Homo sapiens: one gene and its partner. The protein of the gene in region 1 purifies or fractionates together with the protein of each later gene. This does not show direct contact. Each region holds a gene or a part of one and is shown on either strand. Other genes may lie near its edges.

The links. The genes of interacting proteins can lie anywhere in the genome.
Region 2: the proteins of SERF1A (region 1) and SMC2 purify together in Homo sapiens (affinity purification with mass spectrometry, with the first as the bait; one large-scale study listed by BioGRID). This does not show direct contact.

What each region holds. Positions count from the first base shown.
Region 1 is NC_000005.10:70,903,078-70,906,498, reverse strand, and holds part of SERF1A (small EDRK-rich factor 1), read right to left. Parts: intron 1-3,421. UniProt on the Homo sapiens protein: Positive regulator of amyloid protein aggregation and proteotoxicity. Induces conformational changes in amyloid proteins, such as APP, HTT, and SNCA, driving them into compact formations preceding the formation of aggregates.
Region 2 is NC_000009.12:104,096,911-104,100,808, forward strand, and holds part of SMC2 (structural maintenance of chromosomes protein 2), read left to right. Parts: intron 1-1,535; coding exon 1,536-1,658; intron 1,659-2,733; coding exon 2,734-2,772; intron 2,773-3,182; coding exon 3,183-3,293; intron 3,294-3,478; coding exon 3,479-3,523; intron 3,524-3,898. UniProt on the Homo sapiens protein: Central component of the condensin complex, a complex required for conversion of interphase chromatin into mitotic-like condense chromosomes.

The sequences.
Region 1 (3,421 bases):
ATTTTTAGTAGAGACAGGGTTTCACCATGTTGGCCAGGCTTGTCTCGAACTCCTGGCCTCAAGTTGATCCGCTCGCCTCGGCCTCCCAAAGTGCTGGATTTACAAGTGTAAGCCACTGAGCCTGGCCTGTTTTAACTTTTTGAGGAAATGCTAAACTGATTTCCACAGCCATGATGGTAAGATATTTCTGTAAAGCCAATAGCAAAAACAAGGGAATAGAAGAAAGGCAAAATAGGCCAGTGGCTCACATCTGTAACCCCAGCACTTTGGGAGGCTGAGATAGGCGGACCACCTGAGGTCGAGAGTTTGAGACCAGACTGAGCAACATGGAGAAACCCTATCTCTACTAAAAATACAAAATTAGCCAGGCATGGTGGTGCATGCCTGTAATCCCAGCTACTTGGGAGGCTGAGGCAGGAGAATCACTTGCACCCGAGAGGTGGAGGTTGCGGTGAGCTGAGATTGCGCCATTGTACTCCGCCTGGGCAACAAGAGCGAAACTCCGTCTCAAAAACATAAAATAAAATAAAATAAAAATAAAGAAGAAAGGCAAAATAACACAGCTACAGGCTGTTCTGCCTATAAAGTAGCCAATATTTATTTCTTTACTTTCCTAATAAACTTGCTTTCACTAAAACAAAAACAAAAACATAGCTATAAAGAAATGAAGTACAGTGGAAAAAGAACCATGACAGTTACTTCTCTATTTGAAACCAAGCTCTGTTGTGCTTGCTGTGTAACTTTAGTAATGTTACTGAAGTTCAGAGCCTCAGTTTCCTATTCTACAGATTAGTGCTAATACCATTTTTCAGAGTTATGATGAATAAAGAATAATGTATATAGAATGTCTAGCATAGAATTTTATAAGGAGTGCATATCTGGTAAACAATGACAATTTCTGAACCAAGCTAGACTAGGTTCTCCAATAAAAATACTATTGCAGGGTCACTGATTCATACCATGTTCATTTTTACTCTAATGTGAGTCAACAGAAATTGAAGACAAAGCTTATCACTTTAATAATAAATGTTAGGGCCGGGCATAGTGGCTCACACCTGTAATTCCAGCACTTTGGGGGACTGAGGTGGGCAAATCACTTGACCCCAGAAGTTCAAGACCTGCCTGGACAACATGATGAAACCCCGTTTCTACAAAAAATATAAAAACTATCTGGGCTTGGTGGTGTGCCCTTGTAGTCCCAGCTACTCAGAAGGCTGAGGTGGGAGGGTCACTTGAGCCTGGGAGGCAGAGCTTGCAGTGAACCGAGACTGTGGCACTGCACTCCAGTCTGGGTCACAGAGTAAGACGCCATATCTGGGAAAAAAAAAAAAAAAGGTGTCAGGACCTTTGCCGTAAATTAAGGTCTTTAATCTCATTTATCAATGACTCTTAATAGTGGCTGCACATTAGAATCACCTGGGAGCTGTTTTAAGTTCAGTTTAAGGTATAACTGGGTGTGCTGGGAGGCTGGGGGAGGGATAGCATCAGGAGAAATACCTAATGTAAATGATGAGTTGATGGGTGCAGCAAACCAACATGGCACATGTATATCTATGTAACAAACCTGCACGTTGTGCATATATACCCTAGAACTTAAAGCGTAATAATAAAAAAAAAATTCAAAAAAAAAAAAAAAAGGTATAACTGGGCCAGCGTGGTGGCTCACGCCTGTAATCCCAGCACTTTGGGAGGCCGAGGCGGGTGGATCACTTGAGGTCAGTAGTTTGAGACCAGCCTGGCCAACACGGTGAAACCCAGTCTCTACTAAAAATACAAAAATTAGCTGGGCATGGTGGCGGGCGCCTGCAATTCCAGCTACTTGGATTGCTGACGCAGGAGAATCGCTTAAGCCCAGGAGGTGGAGGTTGCAGTGAGCCGAGATCACGCCACTGCACTCCAGCATGGGCAACAGAGTAAGACTCTGCCTTTAAAAAAAAAAAAAGGCATAACCTAAGTACAGTAAAATTTACCTAGGGTGCTTTTTAATGCTCGACCTCTGACCAATTAAATCAGAACTGGATGAAAGTTAAATGTTTGAGCATAGAGATATCCCAATTACCCCGATTTGATCATTACACATTGTACACATAAAGGTTTTTTTTTTTTGACGGAGCCTCGCTCTGTCGCCCAGGCTGGAGTGCGGTGGCGCGATCTCAGCTCACTGCAAGCTCCGCCTCCCGGGTTCACGCCAGTCTCCTGCCTCAGCCTCCCGAGTAGCTGGGACTACAGGCGCCCGCCACTGCGCCCGACTAATTTTTTGTATTTTTAGTACGGACAGGGATTCACCGTGGTCTCGATCTCCTGACCTCGTGATCTTCCTGCCTTGGCCTCCCAAAGTGCTGGGATTACAGGCATGAGCCATCGCGCCCGGCCGGAGTTTCACTCTTGTTGTCCAGGCTGGAGTGCAATGGCGAGATCTCAGCTCACCGCAACCTCCGCCTCCCAGGTTCAAGTGATTCTCCTGTCTCAGCCTGCCGAGTAGCTAGGATTACAGGTGTTCGCCACCACAGTTGGCTTTTTTTTTTTTTGAGACGGAGTCTCGCTCTGTCACCCAGGCTGGAGGGCAGTGGCACGATCTCGGCTCGCTGCAAGCTCCGCCTCCCGGGTTCACGCCATTCTCCTGCCTCAGCCTCCCAAATAGCTGGGACTACAGGCGCCTGCCACCTCGCCCGGCTAAGTTTTGTATTATTAGTAGAGACGGGGTTTCACCGTGTTAACCAGGATGGTCTCGATCTCCTGACCTCGTGATCCGCCCGCCTGGGCCTCCCAAAGTGCTGGGGTTACAGGCGTGAACCACCGCGCCCGGCCACACACTTGGCTAATTTTGTATTTTTAGTAGAGATGGGGTTTCTCCATGTTGGTCAGAATGGTCTTGAGCTCCCAACCTCAGGTAATCCACCCGCTTCGGCCTCCCAAAGTGCTGGGCTAACAGGTATGAGCCACCACGCCAAGCCAGTTTCTTTTTGTTGTTGTTTTTTTGAGACAGGGTCTCACTCTGTCACCCAGGCTGGAATGCAATGGCAGGATCTCGGCTCACTGCAACCTCCGCCTCCCAGGTTCAAGTGATTCTCCTGCCTTAGCCTCCCAAGTGGCTGGGACTACCCAGCCCACATACAGGTATTAAAAGATCACATGTACCCCCAAAATATGTACAACTATTGTAATTCAATTTTTTAAAAAAACAAAAAATCAAAACTGAGCATAACGCAAGGCTTGAGTAGCTGTCAAGGTTTCCCAGGTGATTCTAATGTGCAGCCAGGATTGAGAACCCCTAACAAGCCACACTGAAGCACATGCAGTCAGTTATTCGCTTAACCTCCAAGTTCCATATGGACAAAATCATTTGAGAATAAAATTAAGCTTTGATTAGCTCTTTTAGAAACATGAGTGTACTTTTTTTTACTTAAGCTGCAGTCTAAAG
Region 2 (3,898 bases), on another chromosome or scaffold:
TCTTTTAATGGCACCTTAGATTGGGTGTACCAAAATTGGTCTAGTTGGAGTTATTCTTTCATTTTAGATATTCTACTTTTATTTTTCCCAGTAGAGCATTGGGGTGTTCATAATACATTGTGGATTCATATTAGATTTACTTGAAACCACTCAATTTTTTTTTAGGTGTGTTATTAATATAGTCAGGCAGTGTTTTCAGCTTGTCAAGGTTTTTTTTTTTTTTTTTTTTTTTCCTGAGACGGAGTCTCGCTCTGTTACCCAGGCTGGTCTCCATCTCCCGGGTTCAAGAGATTCTTCTGCCTCAGCCTCCTGAGTAGCTGGGACTACAGGTGCCCACCACCACACCCGGCTAATTTTTTTTTGTTTTTTGTATTTTTAGTAGAGACGGGATTTCGCTATGTTGGCCAGGGTGGTCTCAATCTCCTGACCTCATGATCTGCCCGCCTTGGCCTCCCAAAGTGCTAGGATTACAGGTGTGAGCCACGGCGCCTGGCCCAAGATTTTGTTTTTAAAAATGTTGTCAACTCCTATTTACTGTCCATCTTATCATTTATCACTTACAGATTTTCTCCTCTATTTTAATGGAAGCCTCTGGTTGAAAAAAAAAAAAAAAAAAGAAGCGTAGGCCACGTTAGGACAGAATCCTGTTCCATGTCATTAGGCATCCATCAAATATTTATCCTTTAGGAACTGTCACTAAGTCTCTTACTAATAATCTACCTAATTGTTCCTGTCCTCATTCAGGCCATAAACTTGTATCTTCACCAAAATTATAAAATTTTTGTCAGAGAAGGGTCTTCAAATACATTAATATATGAACTACCAACCTAGTAGTCCTGTCAGGAAAAGAAATGAACTAACATTTATTCAATATTTATTAAATAGTTGATGTATATTGGGTGTTCTTGAATGTACTGGGATGTACAGTTAGAAGAATGAGAAACAGAGCTTGTCTTTAAGGACTTCAATCTGGTAGATGAGACAATCATACCCAATAAATGACAATTTAAGTGTGATAGTAGAGTATGGTGTCTGGGATGACTTAATGAAACCATACTGAAGCTCCATGATTACCCTTTCTTTTAAATGGTCATAAATCATGTCTTTATTAATAGCTTTTTGAATCTTGTCAAGAATTGATACTAAGCTACTTTGTCTGACATCTATTCCTGTTGAAAAGTAGAGAAAGCCTCTAGAAAAATTACAGAAAGAAAGTAACTAGGAAAGTGTGTTTTACATATACTTGGAAACATAAAGCTAGAAGTTACCTCGGAGACCTAGTCTGGTGCAGGCCAGGGTAAGAGGCTTGTGTGTAATTACATAACTAGTTACCAAAAGTACTTGCATTAGATACTAGCTGTCCTGACTCAAGTTAGCGTTTTTGACCATGTCATACTTGTTCCACTATTTATGCAGAATTGGTTTTGTTTACTGCTAGTCAGACAGAACAAATAAACGTAAGCTAATATACTTAGTTTATCCTAGCACAAGGTGTGCATGTACATTAATATTTAAAAAATTGCTTTCTTTTATAGGTGGTTATTGGTGGTAGAAATAAATATTTAATCAATGGAGTCAATGCCAACAACACCAGAGTACAGGATCTCTTCTGTTCTGTTGGCCTTAATGTTAACAACCCTCACTTTCTCATCATGCAGGTATTTCGTTTGAGGTCTTTATATCACTTTCGTAATAGTTTCGACATTTTTTACTTTTAAGCAATTAAAATAGAAGTACTTTATGTTTTGGATTTTATACTTTTTATTTACTATTGTGCTGTGTCCGGCCATCTGTTTAGAAATATGGTTTAGTTACTTGCACTGATATATTCTACTGGATTATAGACCTTTGACTCCTCTAGAATGTTTAGAAGTAATTTTTGTTGACTTTTTGTTTTGTCACTAAAAGAACAATACATGTTAACTGTAAAAAAAAAAAAGCCATAATATATCCTTTTAAATTATTGGATTAATGCATCTTAATATTTCAAGTATAAAAGCTTGAGTAATTTTCTTAGAGACTCACACAAATGAGGAGTAAAGGCTGATTTTATCTTACATTTACATTACTTCATTTGACCCATCCAGCTGCCGTTTGAGAGAATTATAGTAAAGTCGATGGGAGCATCTCAGTGGGACCAAAATAAAAATATTTCCACTACACACCTTCATAGTTGAAACTTTACTTTAAATGAATCTACATTCTAGTAATACAATTCTCTGAGACCTGGGTGTGCAGGTGTTTTGCTTTATTTGTTTTTGGTAATGAATAAATTTAATGGTTTTCTGGCATTGATGTAAAATATTGTATTTTGTTTGAGGCCTAGAAGTATGTCATCTGTTTTGTGAAATTATCCTGGAGGGTTATCATTCAAAGAAATGTTAAAAGTTTTTTAATTATGCTGAAATTTCTTTTTATATTTACCTGTTTTAAATTTGAATATTTCTACTTAATGTTAACTGTCTCAGAAACATGATCCTTGTTAACTTTGTATCATTTAATGAATTATTTCATTTGTATCATTTCATAACTTCCATAATTTGTATCACTGGTGAGAAAGTGAATAGCAAAGTTCCAAAATTCTAGAATCATAGAAGAATTATAGAGGAAAGACCCCCCCAAAGATTGGTATATTGAGATACAACAGCTTCAGTCTAGATAAACATGAATGGCAGTACAGATAAACATTTTCTGTAATTTGTTATCTTAGTAAGTTTGCTATTTTATTTTCAGGGCCGAATTACAAAAGTATTGAATATGAAACCTCCAGAGGTAAGAGTACTATTTATGGACATTAAAAATAGTTGGTATAGATATTACTTTAATCTTTCAGACAATTTTTAAATATTCTATTAAAATTTTTGGAGACATTATTTGGGAATGATTAGTAAAGACAGTTGTATATTTGTGTAATATTTGGCACTATGCCCAAATATTAAAATTGATTTTGATTGTATAAAGGAGTCTTGCTTAGCTGGTGTTTCATGTCAGAATTCATTCCTACAGAAAAAGCCTACAGGAAAAGGTTTGTGTGAAATTACTATATTTAACCTATATGGTTCATTTGGGCCAACTTTTGGTAAGATGTTTAGTGAGGTCAAGGCAAAAATGATATATTTAATGTAAATTCCAGTTGGACACATTGTCTTGGATACTAAACATTAATAAAATTGTCATTCCAGATTTTATCCATGATAGAAGAAGCAGCTGGAACCAGGATGTATGAATACAAAAAAATAGCTGCACAGAAAACTATAGAAAAAAAGGAGGCTAAGCTGAAAGAAATTAAGACGGTAATTTAATTCATATAAAATATTTTCGGAGAAGAATGTAATTTTGCATGTAGAGTTTTTGCTGTAAAGAGGGAAAAATTTTTTTCCTTGGTTCAGTTTTCCATAGTCATCCCTGCTACTTCTCTTTCAAATAAATTTTAATGATACTTTACATGCGAAAATACTGATTTTTCTTTATTTTCCAGATACTTGAAGAAGAGATTACTCCAACCATTCAAAAATTAAAAGAGGTATATTCTGTATATGTGAGGATAATCTATTAGAATGTCTTTCAAAGTCAGCAATGTATCCAAAATCATACACATAGTGATACTATTTCTTGGGGGTTTTTTTCCTGCGATGAGATAAGGAATTAGAGTTGGCACTCCATAACTCAGCGTTCTGCTTACAGAGGATATGCACTTATCTGCTAAGTCATAGGATATTGGAGAGTAATTTTTATAGTTTCAGAAAATGGTATGCCGAATTTTAATACTTTATTTAAGCTAAGCAAGTCTGGATTTTCCTAGTTAGTTAGCATTGACTGGAACAACATTTCTTAAAGATAAGGCACTCTTAGACACCCTCATTGAGAACAATTTCCAGGATAACAGGGGCTATCACTA